3 separate regions of the Homo sapiens genome follow, and regions 1 and 3 are each reported to be linked to region 2. The links are microRNA targets in miRTarBase. Many come from high-throughput screens and were not tested one by one. Region 2 holds a microRNA gene; each other region holds the end of a gene's coding sequence. Distances are between the middles of the regions.
Evidence for each region. The annotated mature microRNA hsa-miR-3159 reads UAGGAUUACAAGUGUCGGCCAC and lies in region 2 at 2,173-2,194, shown strand. An mRNA with a match to its seed (bases 2 to 7 or 8) in the 3' UTR can be bound and repressed. Matches are read on the target gene's strand: a 7mer-m8 pairs with bases 2 to 8, a 7mer-A1 pairs with bases 2 to 7 and ends in A, and an 8mer does both.

Region 1 (4,193 bases), not on the chromosome of region 2:
AAGCATTCGCTTCATGGTCGCAGACTTCCTTGTTTTCTTTTGCTCTCACATGCTCATGTCATACTCTTATTTTTTTAAGACAGGGTCTCACTGTCACCCAGGCTGGAGTGTGTGCAGTGGCTCAAACTGCACTGAAGCCTCAATCTCTCAGGCTCAAGCAATCCTCCCACTTTGCCTCCCAAGTAGCTGGGACACAAGCATGCACCACCACACCCAGCTAAGTTTTTTATTTTTATTTTTGTAGACACAGGGGTCTCACCATGTTGCCCAGGCTGGTCTCAAACTCCTGGACTTAAGTGATCCTCCCCCCTCAGCCTCCCAAAGTGTTGGAATTACAGGAATGAGCCACTGCGCCCAGCCTATTTTTAGTTTTTATAGAGACAGGGTCTCACTATGTTGCCCAGGCTACAATTGGTTTGCTATAGGCAATAGTTTGTTTTGTTTTGTTTCATTTTGTTTTGAGACGGAGTCTCGCTCTTTCACCCAGGCTGGAGTGCAGTAGCACTACCTTGGCTCACTGCAAACTCTACCTCCTGGGTTCAAGCAATTCTTCTGCCTCAGCCTCCCAAGTAGCTGGGACTACAGGTGCGTGCCACCACACCCAGCTAATTTTTGTATTTTTAGAAGAGACGGGGTTTCACCGTGTTAGCCAGGATGGTCTCGATCTCCTGACCTTGTGATCCGCCCGCCTTGGCCTCCCAAAGTGCTGGGATTACAGGCGTGAGCCACCATACCTGGCCATCTAAACTTAATTATCTCCCAAATGTCCCATTTCCAAATATCATCACATTGGGGGTTAGGGCTTCAACATATGAATTTTAGGGGGATATAATTCAGTCCATAGCACTTTGTCTTTTGGTGGACCTGGGTGCTGGGTGTGGTCATTACTATTGGAGTGTCATTGCTCTCACATCAGTGCAAAGGACTATACATACAAAAACATATTTACATCTATCTCTATAGACTGAAATACACGAGTTCACACTGATATCTCCAATTCGACACCACAGGGTTTATTCTAGTTTTCTCCCTTTCCATATTTGTGGGAGCCAGGTTTTTATGAGACAATTTTATTGGGAGATAATTCTGTGTCTCTTGTGGGTGTCTTAATTGTCAGATTTTGTACGCTTTGACCACCATTTAAATTTTTTAAATGCAACAAAATATCAATTTTGTTGATACTTTGTGGGCTGAGATGTTGACAGATTTTGTTCCAGACTATTTCAAGGATTTTTTTTTTCTTGAGATGGAGTTTCACTCTTGTTGCCCAGGCTGGAGTGCAACGGCGTGATCTTGGCTCACCACAACCTCCGCCTCCTGGGTTCAAGCGATTCTCCTGCCTCAGCCTCCCGAGTAGCTGGATTACAGGCTCGCGCCACCACGCTTGGCTAATTTTTGTATTTTTAGTAGAGACGGGATTTCTCCATGTTGGTCAGGCTGGTCTGGAACTCCCAACCTCAGGTGATCCGCCTGCCTCAGCCTCCCAAAGTGCTAGGATTATAGGTGTGCCACTGTGCCCAGGTATTTCAAGGATTTTTGTACAGCAAATGGCCTTAGAAGACAGAGATAGTATCTCCCTAAGATTGTGGTTCCTTAGCCGTCATGCAAACCTGCAGTGTGTAACACTTTCCTGGGCCTGCCAGTATTGCCCTGTGGGACTTGGAGGGCAAGGGAGACCAAGGCTAACACACTGCCTGCTGTGCCCTGAGCAGTAGTCTCTGCCCAAGTAATCCTGTGTTTTCTGCCAGCATTCATGAAGCTGGCTCCCTAACACAAGAAGTTGTTGAAAGTTCTACTCAGCTTCTTAGCTGCCTCTTCCAGAATCAGCAGGTGCCCTTATGGGAAAAGTAGCTCTAAGTCCCAGGCTCACTTCTCTTGAGTTTCCTTCGTGTCCTGAATTTTGGTTCTATATTGCCAGCTGATGCTTTCAGATAGATGCTGTTTATATTTTGCACAGCTTTTCTAGTTGTTCTCTATGTTCAGTGGGTCCAAATTTCCTGGTCTACCATTAGTGAAAGTGGCAGATGGTGAAGGCAATTTTCAACTCAAAGGTTTCAAGGCCACCAAAAAGAGAAATACACATGTACTGAGAAAGAAAAGTCAAGACCTGTAAGAAGTGTCACAGGTTTCTTAGGTCACACATACAAAACTGACCCATATATTCCTGAAAATGAACAGACTGTCTAGTGCCCCAGACCCCTGCTATGGATACCCTATTTGACCTTCAGGCTTAGTTCCAAAGCCAGCTATATCTTTTATAAAAGACTTTCCACCCTATCTCCTTCACCTCCTCACCCAGCCAAAGGAAACCTTCTTTCCTCTGTTCTCCCACAGGACTTTATACCTCTGTTAGGGCACTTCTCCATCTCTGCCACGTTATAGCTGGCTGACCACCCAAATTCATAATTAGCAACTTGAGGACCCAATCATGTCTTAACCATCTTTGCATTTTTCAGTATGTCTTGAATAGAGAATTTATGAAAATAAATGTTTGCATAAGCTGATAAAGGAGATGAAGAAAAACACACAGAAGGAGAAAACCAAGGGTGTGGGATCAGAAAATCCAAGAGAAGAGAGTGTTTCTGGAGAATGAAGCAATAACTGAATGCTGCTGAGAAGTCAGAATGATGAAGCCTGAAAAGTTTCCCCTAAATGTGGCAGCATAAAGGATTCAGGAGAACACTGACTTTTATTGAGGAAGACAGGTCAAATGTTGTTTGGAGTCACTGCATTTTTTAGGCAAGTCAATTAGACAAGCTTCTTTTTTTTTTTTTTTGAGACAGAATGTCGCCCAGGCTGGAGTGCAATGGCACGATCTCGGCTCACTGCACCCTCTGCCTCCCAGGTTCAAGCAATTCTCCTGCCTCAGCCTCTGAGTAGCTGGGATTACAGGCATGCACCACCATGCCTGGCTAATTGTTGTATTTTTAGTAGAGATGGGGTTTCACCATGTTGGTCAGGCTGGTCTCGAATTCCTGACCTTGTGATCCGCCTGCCTCGGCCTCCCAAAGTGCTGGGATTATAGGCGTGAGCCACCGTGCCCGGCCTGGCAAGCTTCTTCTTGAAGAAGGATGAACAGTTCTCAGCAAAGAGGAGTCATCATTCTTCTGAACCACCATAAACATTCCAGAGAAGAGGTAGATAGAAGGCTAGATCCTGGAGGATGTGCTGTGGTGAGCTAGGCCCTCAGGCAGGTGGTGGTGCCCAGCAGAAATGGCACTGTAAGCCAGGCTTCCCTGGTCCTAGGAGAATGTTTTAGACTAGATGTCTAGGAGAAGTCTGGGCACTACCACTGGTCTTCATAGACCTGCATCAGGCTGGTCCTAGGCCTCCTGTTCCAGCTACATAGTGGACACCTCCCTCTGGGCTATAGCACACAGGGCCACAGCGCAACTGGGGCTCTTCCTCCTCATACCAGCGCTGTTCACTGAAGTCAGGGAAGAAGGCTGCAATCTCTCTGCTGGCTGAAACCACAGAGTCTGTAAGGGGAGATAAGACAGAGAAGGGGTTCTCACATGGTAGAAGCAAGAGGCAGTCATAATCAGGTTCAGAATCCTGAGCCTCTACTCTGCCTGCCCCTTCAGTCCTGGGGCATGTAAAGAAAGTCCACAGGCCACATCTGCCAACATGGCTACAAAGACCAGAAACACAAATGGAAGAAAGCTCACTGGAGGGACCTGGCTGTCAACTCTACCACACAGCCTGCCCGCTAACCCCAAAATATCCTATGGCTATGGACAGGGGACTCACCCGAACCATGGGTGGTGTTGCGGGTGTCAGTGAGGCCGAAACTCCCACGGATAGAATCTGGGGCCACATGGCGTGCTCGGAACACTCTGGTGGGTCCCATGAGCGTCCTCCAGAGCTGGATGGCATCCTTGTGGGCAAGGATGTAGGCTCGGATTGGCCCGCTGTGAACAAAACAAGCACATGTAAAGAACCTGGCCATCTAGACTAGGAGGGTGTGCTGTGAGCAGGGCCTGAATAAAAACACACTCTACGTTCTGAGAGTTTTCCTGCCTTTCCAGCTGAGTACCAATGCTGCTTCAAATAGGTGATGCAGGGCCCCTGCTGGTGTACATCAAGCCTGCAGAGATCAGCAGGGTGGCTATGCAGCATTCAAGGGGACTCTTCTAACCACCAGAGGACAGGTGCCTAACAGGTCAGCATCGGCTCAGTGACAGCCCCAAACC
Region 2 (4,200 bases):
TCAAGTGATCCACCCGCCTCGGCCTCCCAAAGTGCTGGAATTATAGGCGTGAGCCATTGCGCCAGGCCCAAGATAGTTTTTTTTTTTTTTGAGACAGAGTCTTGCTCTGTCGCCCAGGCTGGAGTGCAGTGGCACGATCTCGGCTCACTGCAAGCTCCTCTTCTCAGGTTCACGCCATTCTCCTGCCTCAGCCTTCCGAGTAGCTGGGATTACAGGCGCCCGCCACCACGCCCGGCTAATTTTTTAAATTATTATTATTTTTAGTAGAGACGGGGTTTCACCCTGTTAGCCAGGATAGTCTCAATCTCCTGACCTCGTGATCCCCCGGCCTCGGCCTCCCAAAGTGCTGGGATTATAGGCGTGAGCCACCGCGCCTGGCCAAGATAGTTTTTGTTAACAAATTTAACAAACACCCACCAGTGTACTGGGCATTTGGGATCCTGTTTTGGAACTAATATGGGGGACAAGAGGATGGCAGGCATAGGTTTCCTGTCGCCATAGGCATTTCTCCCTTATCTCAGGAGCAGTCCTGATCACTTCCCAAAATGGGGAGCGCTTTGCCTCTGAGTCCTGAGCATTGTAAAAATGAAGGTGTGTTGTGTGGAAGCTGGACTCACTACCGCAGAGCCTCCTTGGACATTACAGCTGGAAGAAAGAGGCCCTTTTTTTTCTTTTTGAGATGGAGTCTCGCTCTGTCGCTCAGGCTGGAGTGCAGTGGCGCTGTCTGGGCTCACTGCAACCTCCGCCTCCTGGGTTCGATGCTCGTACCTCAGCCTCCTGAGTAGCTAGCATCACAAGAGCCCACTATAGAGCCCGGCTAATTTTTGTATTTTTAGTAGAGATGACATTCCGCCATGTTGGCCAGGCTGGTCTTGAACTCCTGACCTCAAGCGATCCACCTGCCTCGGCCTCCCAAAGTGCTGGGATTACAGGCATGAGCCACCGCACCCGGCCAAGAGAGATCCTTTTATGTTTGCAGTCAAGGGTGCTGAGGCTACAGAGGGAATGCAACTGCCACAATGTTACCCAGGTGTCCATGACATAGCTGGGGTAAGAATACATGTTTCCTGACCCCCAGGCCAGTGTCCCCTATCCATCAGCTGCCCCGTCGTCTCTGTCCCGCCATGCCCATCACTGTCCTTGCCACCCAAGGTGTCAGAGGGAAAGGCTATCACAACTTTTCATGGTCCTCCCCTGCTGTGATTAGACAACAGACAGTTTCTGCTTGTGGGTGCCACTGGTGACTGTCTGGCTTGAAGGGGCCTTGGGACTCCCTCTGCAGCACTGATTTTGGGGGCCCTGGGTTTGGAAGTCACTTAAATTCTGGTGACAGTCTTTGCTCTGGAACTTCTCAGTGGGATGGGAAGCTTGAGGCCCAAATCCCAGCCAGGGAAAGAGGGAGAGAAAGGACACAGCTGCTACTTATTTCCTGGGTTAGGAAGTGGCTGGGAAGGAATCTAGAGTTTTTGAGATGGATTTTATTAGGGAACAGTGTGAGGAATGAATTCTGGAGGGAATGATGGTCCAAGCCAAAAGAGGAAATGCAGGCAGCATCTTGTGCCTGAGGATGAGCCTTGCCTGGAGGAGGAGCGGGTGAGGAGGAGGAGACAGGCATTAGGGGACCAGGGGTTGTCACCCAGGAGAACCTGAACAGTCAGGGTGGAGTCTTCTGGCATCCATTCCTGTCATCTGAGAGACAGATGGGGCTTGGGATGAGGAGAGGGACATGAAGGAGTTTCTCAGGAGCAGGTGCCTGCTCTCATGCCAAAGAGAGGAGCCTCTACTTTGGTACGTACATAGTAGGCCCTGGTATCTCAGGAACAGAGACTGATGAGGTTGTCTGCATCTTGGGCCCTGCAACTCAGGAAAGCCATCAGTTTTGCAACCACAGAAAAGGTAAAAAAAAGAGTCAGGCTGTCAGTGAGGGTTTGAAGGGACTGTGGGGCTGTCTAGGGTTGTATGAGAAGTGTATGTTCTGAACACATGTGGTTGGAGCTGTATATGGTCTGTACATGTTGTAGATCTGTATGTTGTGTATTACTAAAAAAAATCCTGGTGCCTTCCTTTCCTTACTCTGTTGCCCAGGCTGGAGTTCAGTGGTGTAAGCATGACTTACTGCAGCCTCAATCTCCTGGGCTCAAGCAATCCTCCTGCTTCAGGCTCCCAAAGTCCTAGGATTACAAGTGTCGGCCACGGGCTGGGCACAGTGGCTCACGCCTGTAATCCCAGCATTTTGGGAGACAGATCTGGGTGGATCACGAGGTCAGAAGATCGAGACCATCCTGGCCAACATGGTGAAACCTCGTCTCTACTAAAAATACGAAAAAATTAGCTGTGTGTAATGGTGCGCGCCTGTAGTCCCAGCTACTCGGGAGTCTGAGGCAGGAGAATAGCTTGAACCCGGAAGGCGGAGCTTGCAGTGAGCGGAGATCGCGCCTCTGCACTCTGGCCTGGCAACAGAGCGAGACTCCATCTCAAAAACAATCAACCAACCAACCAAACAAACAAGAACAAAAAAACAAGTGTTGGCCGGGCGCGGTGGCTCACGCCTGTAATCCCAGCACTCTGGGAGGCCGAGGGGGGCGGATCATAAGGTCAGGAGATCGAGACCATCCTGGCTAACACGGTGAAACCCCGTCTCTACTAAAAATACAAAAAATTAGCCGGGCGCGGTGGCAGGCGCCTGTAGTCCCACCTACTCGGGAGGCTGAGACAGGAGAATGGCGTGAACCCCGGAGGCGGAGCTTGCAGTGAGCCGAGATTGCGCCACTGCACTCCAGCCTGGGCGACAGAGTGAGACTCTGTCTCAAAAAACAAAAAAAACAAAAAAAAACAAATGTCAGCCAGCATACCCTGTCTCCCCCAAATTTCTTAGCCTGGCATTTAAGGCTAAAGATTAACCAGACTCACCATGTATTTTCCTGCCCCTGTGCATTTTATTCATGCTTTGTTCTCTGCTTTCTCAGCCCCTGATCTTTACCAATTAAAATCCTCTTCTAGCTGCAGCTCAGATGCTACCTCTTCCAGGAAGCCTTTTTTGGTATCCTTACCCAAATGCCCTCTCTCCTCTGAATGGCAGAGCACTTTTCTCTACCTCTTTTGCAGTAGTTACATTCTCTTATGCATTCTGACTATTAAGGGCGAGGCTGTCAGTTTCCTCCACTAAATACGAAAGTCTTCGAAGGCTTATAAGTTTGTTGTATTCATTTTTGTATCCCCAATACCTAGCACAGTCCCTTTACATAGCAGGCATTTAATTCAAAATATATTTGTTAAACAAATAAATGTATGTGTTGGGTTATGGAGATAAATGAGAAACTTGTGGGGTTTTTTTGTTTGTTTTCTGAGATGGAGTCTTGCTCTGTCACCCAGGCTGGAGTGCAGTAGCGCAATATTGGCTCACTGCAACTTCCGCCTCCTGAGTTCAAGCAATTCTCCTGCCTCGGCCTCCCGAGTAGCTGGGATTACAGGTGCCTGCCACCGCACCCGGCAAATTTTTGTGTTTTTAGTAGAGACAAGGTTTCACCATGTTGTCCAGTTTGTCTCGAACTCCTGACCTCGTGATCCGCCAGCCTCGGCCTCCCAAAGTGTTGGGATTACAGGGGTGAGCCACCGTGCCCAGCCTTTTTGTTGTTGTTGTTGTTTGTTTTTGAGACAGGGTTTCACTCTGTCTCCCAGGCAGGAGTGCAGTGGAGCGATCATAGCTCACTGCAGCCTCAACCTTCTGGACTCAAGCAATTCTGCCACCCTAGTCTCCCGAGTAGCTGGGACTACAGGCACACGCCACCATGCCCAGCTAATTTTTTTTTTCTCGTAGAGATGAGGTCTTGTTATTTTGCCTAGGCTGCTCTCAAACTCCTGGGCTAAAGCGATCCTCCTGCCTCAGCCTCCCAAAGTGCTGGTATTAGAAGGATGAGCCACTGTGCCCGGTGCTAGGAAAACTTCTTGCCCTGTGCTAGGAAAACATTTTTTCCTAGTGGAAAGAAAGTTTCCCAGTGGAAAAAAAGTTTATTTGCACTAGGAGCTTACAGTTCAGTGACAGAGACATATACAAATATGAATTAATTTATTTGGGAGGCTGAGGTAGGCAGATGGCTTGGGCCCAGGAGTTCAAGACGAGGCTGGACAACATGGAGAAACCCCGTCTCTACTAAAAATATAAAAATTAGCCGGGCATTGTGGTGCACACTTATAGTTACA
Region 3 (4,200 bases), 39 Mb from region 2:
AAATCCTGTCTCTACTAAAAATACAAAATTAGCCAGGCGTGGTGGTACACACCTGTAATCCCAGCTACTCGGGAGGCTGAGGCAGAAGAATCGCTTGAACCCAGGAGGCTGAGGTTGCAGTGAGCCGAGATTGTGCCCCTGAGTGACAGAGCAAGACTCTGTCTAAAAAAAAAAAAGTGGCCAAGTGAGGTCCCAGCTTTGACCTCTGTCACAAAGTACATCAGTGTCAAGAAACTTGTGAGATAGGGCCTTTACACATCATTCTGTGTAACATCTCATTGTATTTAGATATGGCACAGAGAGAAGTGTTTTTAAGATCATAGATCTTGTCTATGGCCATATCACCCTGAACGCACACGATCTCGTCTGATCATAGATCTTAGCTATAGAGGATTCTCATGGATTGCAATCTATGAGAAAAGATCCATCTGTTTCACTCTCTAATCTAAACCTAACCTTGACACAACGCTTAGCATATAGGAGGTGCTTGGCAAATATTTATTGAATGAGATAAACAAATGGACCAATCCAGAAGGAAGAGAGAAGAGTAGGGTTTGTATCTAGCTCAATGCCAAAGGATAAGAACATAACAGGGAAATAAAGTGTTGCTGACAAGCAGCCAGGCTTTTCTATTTAGATAAAAATCATCTCAAGCAGGGCTATCAAAACTCTTTGGAAAGTAAACTCTTAATAGCTTTTTGGCTTTGTACTTCAACCTCTAATCTAACACTACAATTGTTAGACACAAATCAAGCTTTAAAAGCTAGTTGATTTCCTGGTCTCACTAGCCCATGAAAGTTTTCATACCCAAGTCCTAGTTCAATAAAACAAGACAGGACCATCATCAGGAGCAGCTATATAATTTTAATCTAAAGATTTGGGCATACAGAAAGCATTTCACATAAATTCTCTTGAGTCTTTAATTATATGACAGGACATAAGGACCTCAGAAAAATAAGTATCTTCCCATAGATCTTAACCCTTGATCTCTGCAGCAAAGATAGTCCCTGGTAATCCAGGTAATATGGTCTGTAAAATATTAATAAATAGGCCTATTGACTTCTGACTAAAGGACTGCATATAGCCTGAGAAGCAACATTATGGCCCAGTGGTCAGTACTTATATACATGGGCCTTTTGATCCTACATTTTCCTATTACGTAGTTGGGATTGGTAGTTTCTAATCTTCTAGTCCTAAGTGTTATATTTAAGAGAGCTACGTATTACAGTGGGCCTTATTCAAGGTTAGTTTTGTCAAATGTTGCAGAAGAATTCCAGTAATTAAAGTAAGTCATTAATTCTTTATGCTTCAGTTTCCTATCTCTAAATTAGCAATAAGCTCCCATGTTCAACTTCAGCCACATTCAATTTTTAAGAATCTTCAGAAGAAAAAATGTTTCACATATAGTTAACAAGAATGTTGCTTGATAAAGAGTTGGGGCTGAGCTCAAAATAAATCCTGGTATAACCTCCTTCTGGTTGCTCTGGAAAGGACACTGATACATAAGGAAGTAACAAAGATGCAAAGCAGGGAAGAAATAACAGCTTGAAGTGAAGAAATGACACAGACCCCCCACATACACACTTTAAAAACTTTATTTATATAAAAAACTCATTTGTTTTTAAAAGCATTAACAAGACAGAAAGAAAAGAGAAAAGGTATGGAGCAGAACACAAGCCCCTTAGTAGTGTTCGGTGGGAAGGTGGGATTTTTGGTTCTCTGGAATTGAATGTTTAGTGTTTTTTATAAACAAAAGAGAGAAAAAAAAGTTAAAGGTCCCCAAAAGCCCACGGCTGTTCTATTACCCACACCCCACCGAGAAAAAAGAGCACCAGGAAAAGAGCAGAAGAGGACAAGAGAGATCAAGAGTGGAGCCAGGTCTGGATGGGGCAATTTTCCCTGTGCAGTGTGCTCTTAGGGTCACAGAGAGCAAAAGGCTCCTTTTTGCCAGAAAAGGTAGATGAAAGTGGGAAGAAATGGGAAGGGGGAAAAGGGTAAATAAGAAATTTTAATGCACGAGTAAAGGGGGTGGTGGGTTGTGCACTTTTCTCCTACCCCATAGCCTCAATATATAAGGGAAGGGGAAGAGAGGGATAAGGAACTCCAGTTGCATGGAACAGAGCTTTTAGATTAGATTAAGGGGAGTAGAAGGCAAATAAGGAAAAGGATTAGAAATAATAATAATAATCAACCCGCATAGCAGCTGATTTCTCTAGCCCAACCTGCTAATTAATATATGCTAAAGTGAGAGGGGGCAATACTGGAGGGAGGGGAGAATTGGGGAGACCACTTCCCTGTAACTCCTTCAGAGATGATGGTAAATTCTGGGCACCTAAGGAGTAAGAGTCACACCACTCACTTCTCTTACCAGCCTTACTTTGAGATTCATCAGAATAGGATTTTTGCAAAATCCCACCCATATGCTGTTGAGCAAAAGCTTGCTATGACTGAAATCATGGCTATACCAATCCTCAATGAAGAATCTGAGGTTCTCTCGGTCACTTCTCTTCTTTCTGCTATTTAGGGCCAATAGTAGGTAAGAAAGCAACAAAATATAATTTGCAAAATTATGAGAAATGAGACTGCAGAGGCAAAGAAAGGCACATGGAAGGGCGGGAGGAGATGCACCCCAGGCCAAAGGCACAAAGAAGAGGCAAAGCCAGGGGCAATCCCCACCTTGTAAGGGAAAAGGGACAGGAGTTATGTACATCAAGTCCTTTAGTTTGCCAACCAATCCAGGGCAGAGGCAAGGGACAGGCCTATAAGGATAGGAAAAGGAGAAACGGGGGAGTGGGGAAGCCAGTTTCAGACTAATTGCTTCATGTACATTCCTACTAGCTCCTCCTAGAGGTCTTCTTCTTCCCAAAAACACATCTTTCTGCTCCTTCTCTACCAAAAGTCTTCCTTGACATTCTCCCCTTTCTACAGCCTCTTGGAAATGGCCAGGCCAACTCAGCAGACATATCACAGGGCAGGAGAGGTGGGTTAAGGACAGCCTGTGTTTAAGGGGCAGCAGCAATAGCCCAGGGTTGGCATGAGGCTTGCAGAAGAGATGGAGTCTGTAGGTTCTTGATGGTCCCTGCCTTGGAGATGAGGAGAGCAAGGTTTCTTAATCCCAGTTTTAGGAGACCTTCACTTACTCAAGGGTCCTTTGCCAGGTGGCATGTGCCAATGTTGCTGGCCTTCTTTGCTTCAAAAATAGCCATTAGGAATAAGGGAAGAGCTCACACTTTCCCCTCTCTAAAAGAAAATAAAAGTCCCTTCCCCATCAGGAAAAAAATCTTGATTAAGAATCGTCAGTTTATCAGACTGCTGGACATTGCATATACAGCATGTAACTTCCAATTCTTCCCACGGCTTCTAGTGAAGATTCCTATTCTCTCCATCCCTCCCCTCCACAAAAGGCCAGGAGTTCCAGGGAAAACTGGCAAAAAGAACTAATCTGCAGCAGTTTCTCAAAATATGCAAATAATTGAGTCAGGTTTCTTGGGAGAAAAATGGAGGGAATGGGGGAGGGGGAGGCGTTGAGACAATTAAACTTCACAGGAAGAAGTTGGGAGTTGATGGAAAGAAGGCAGCCACTTAGGGCTGTAAGGGCAGGAGGCAGCCTGGCAGTTGGCACAATAGTCCAGCGAAGAAAAAGGAAAATCATCAGTCAATTTCACCACCAAAAAATAAAAGTACATATAAGCCCAGATGGAACGGAGATAGTGGTGCTAAATCTTCTGCTGTGGAGAAAAAAGAGAAAGAGAGAATGTTAATGGGGTTGGGATTAAGGAGACCCCCCCCAAAAAAGTTGAGCAAATCTGGAGAAAGGAAAGCAGCACATAACGGAGAATCAGATCACCAGCTGCATGTCCCAGACTCGTAAGAGGTAATAATCACAAAAGCAGAACCCCTCGAGCCCCATGTGGCTGAGACTACTTAGTCTCTGGCCTGATCAGATTAGCGTGATTGACAAGTTGCTGGCACTCAGGAGCCTCCTTCCTCAAGAACAATCTTGGGGGTGACTGAAGGACATACCATGGAGGGGTAAGACACTTGGCCCCCCTCATCATCCAAAACCAACACATCCAACTCTTCCTCCAGAGATTCCTGCCCCTCGTCCTGCTGTGAACACATGCAATTTGTTAGTATGAGTAGAGACAGGAACCTCATGAGTGTGTGCCAGAGCTAGGGAAACTCTGAAAATTTGTAAAC

Region 1: the mRNA of NME6 is a reported target of hsa-miR-3159. Seed matches in the 3' UTR shown: 8mer at 1,493-1,500.
Region 3: the mRNA of CTNND1 is a reported target of hsa-miR-3159. Seed matches in the 3' UTR shown: 7mer-A1 at 2,395-2,401 and 7mer-m8 at 2,165-2,171.

The regions. Positions count from the first base shown.
Region 1 is chr3:48,291,325-48,295,517 of GRCh38, forward strand. It overlaps NME6 (NME/NM23 nucleoside diphosphate kinase 6), which reads right to left. Exons shown (of 6, transcript NM_001308426.2): 5 at 3,751-3,911; 6 at 993-3,479. The coding sequence ends at 3,313. It also overlaps the pseudogene FCF1P2. Among named protein-coding and RNA genes, the nearest start is that of NME6, 7.9 kb to the right of the region's middle.
Region 2 is chr11:18,385,624-18,389,823 of GRCh38, forward strand. MIR3159 (microRNA 3159) reads left to right here and starts at 2,164; the gene lies at 2,164-2,237.
Region 3 is chr11:57,815,825-57,820,024 of GRCh38, reverse strand. CTNND1 (catenin delta 1) reads right to left here. Exons shown (of 21, transcript NM_001085458.2): 20 at 4,024-4,110; 21 at 485-3,728. The coding sequence ends at 3,717. It overlaps TMX2-CTNND1 (TMX2-CTNND1 readthrough (NMD candidate)), which reads right to left. Exons shown (of 21, transcript NR_037646.1): 21 at 845-3,728. Among named protein-coding and RNA genes, the nearest start is that of CTNND1, 56 kb to the right of the region's middle.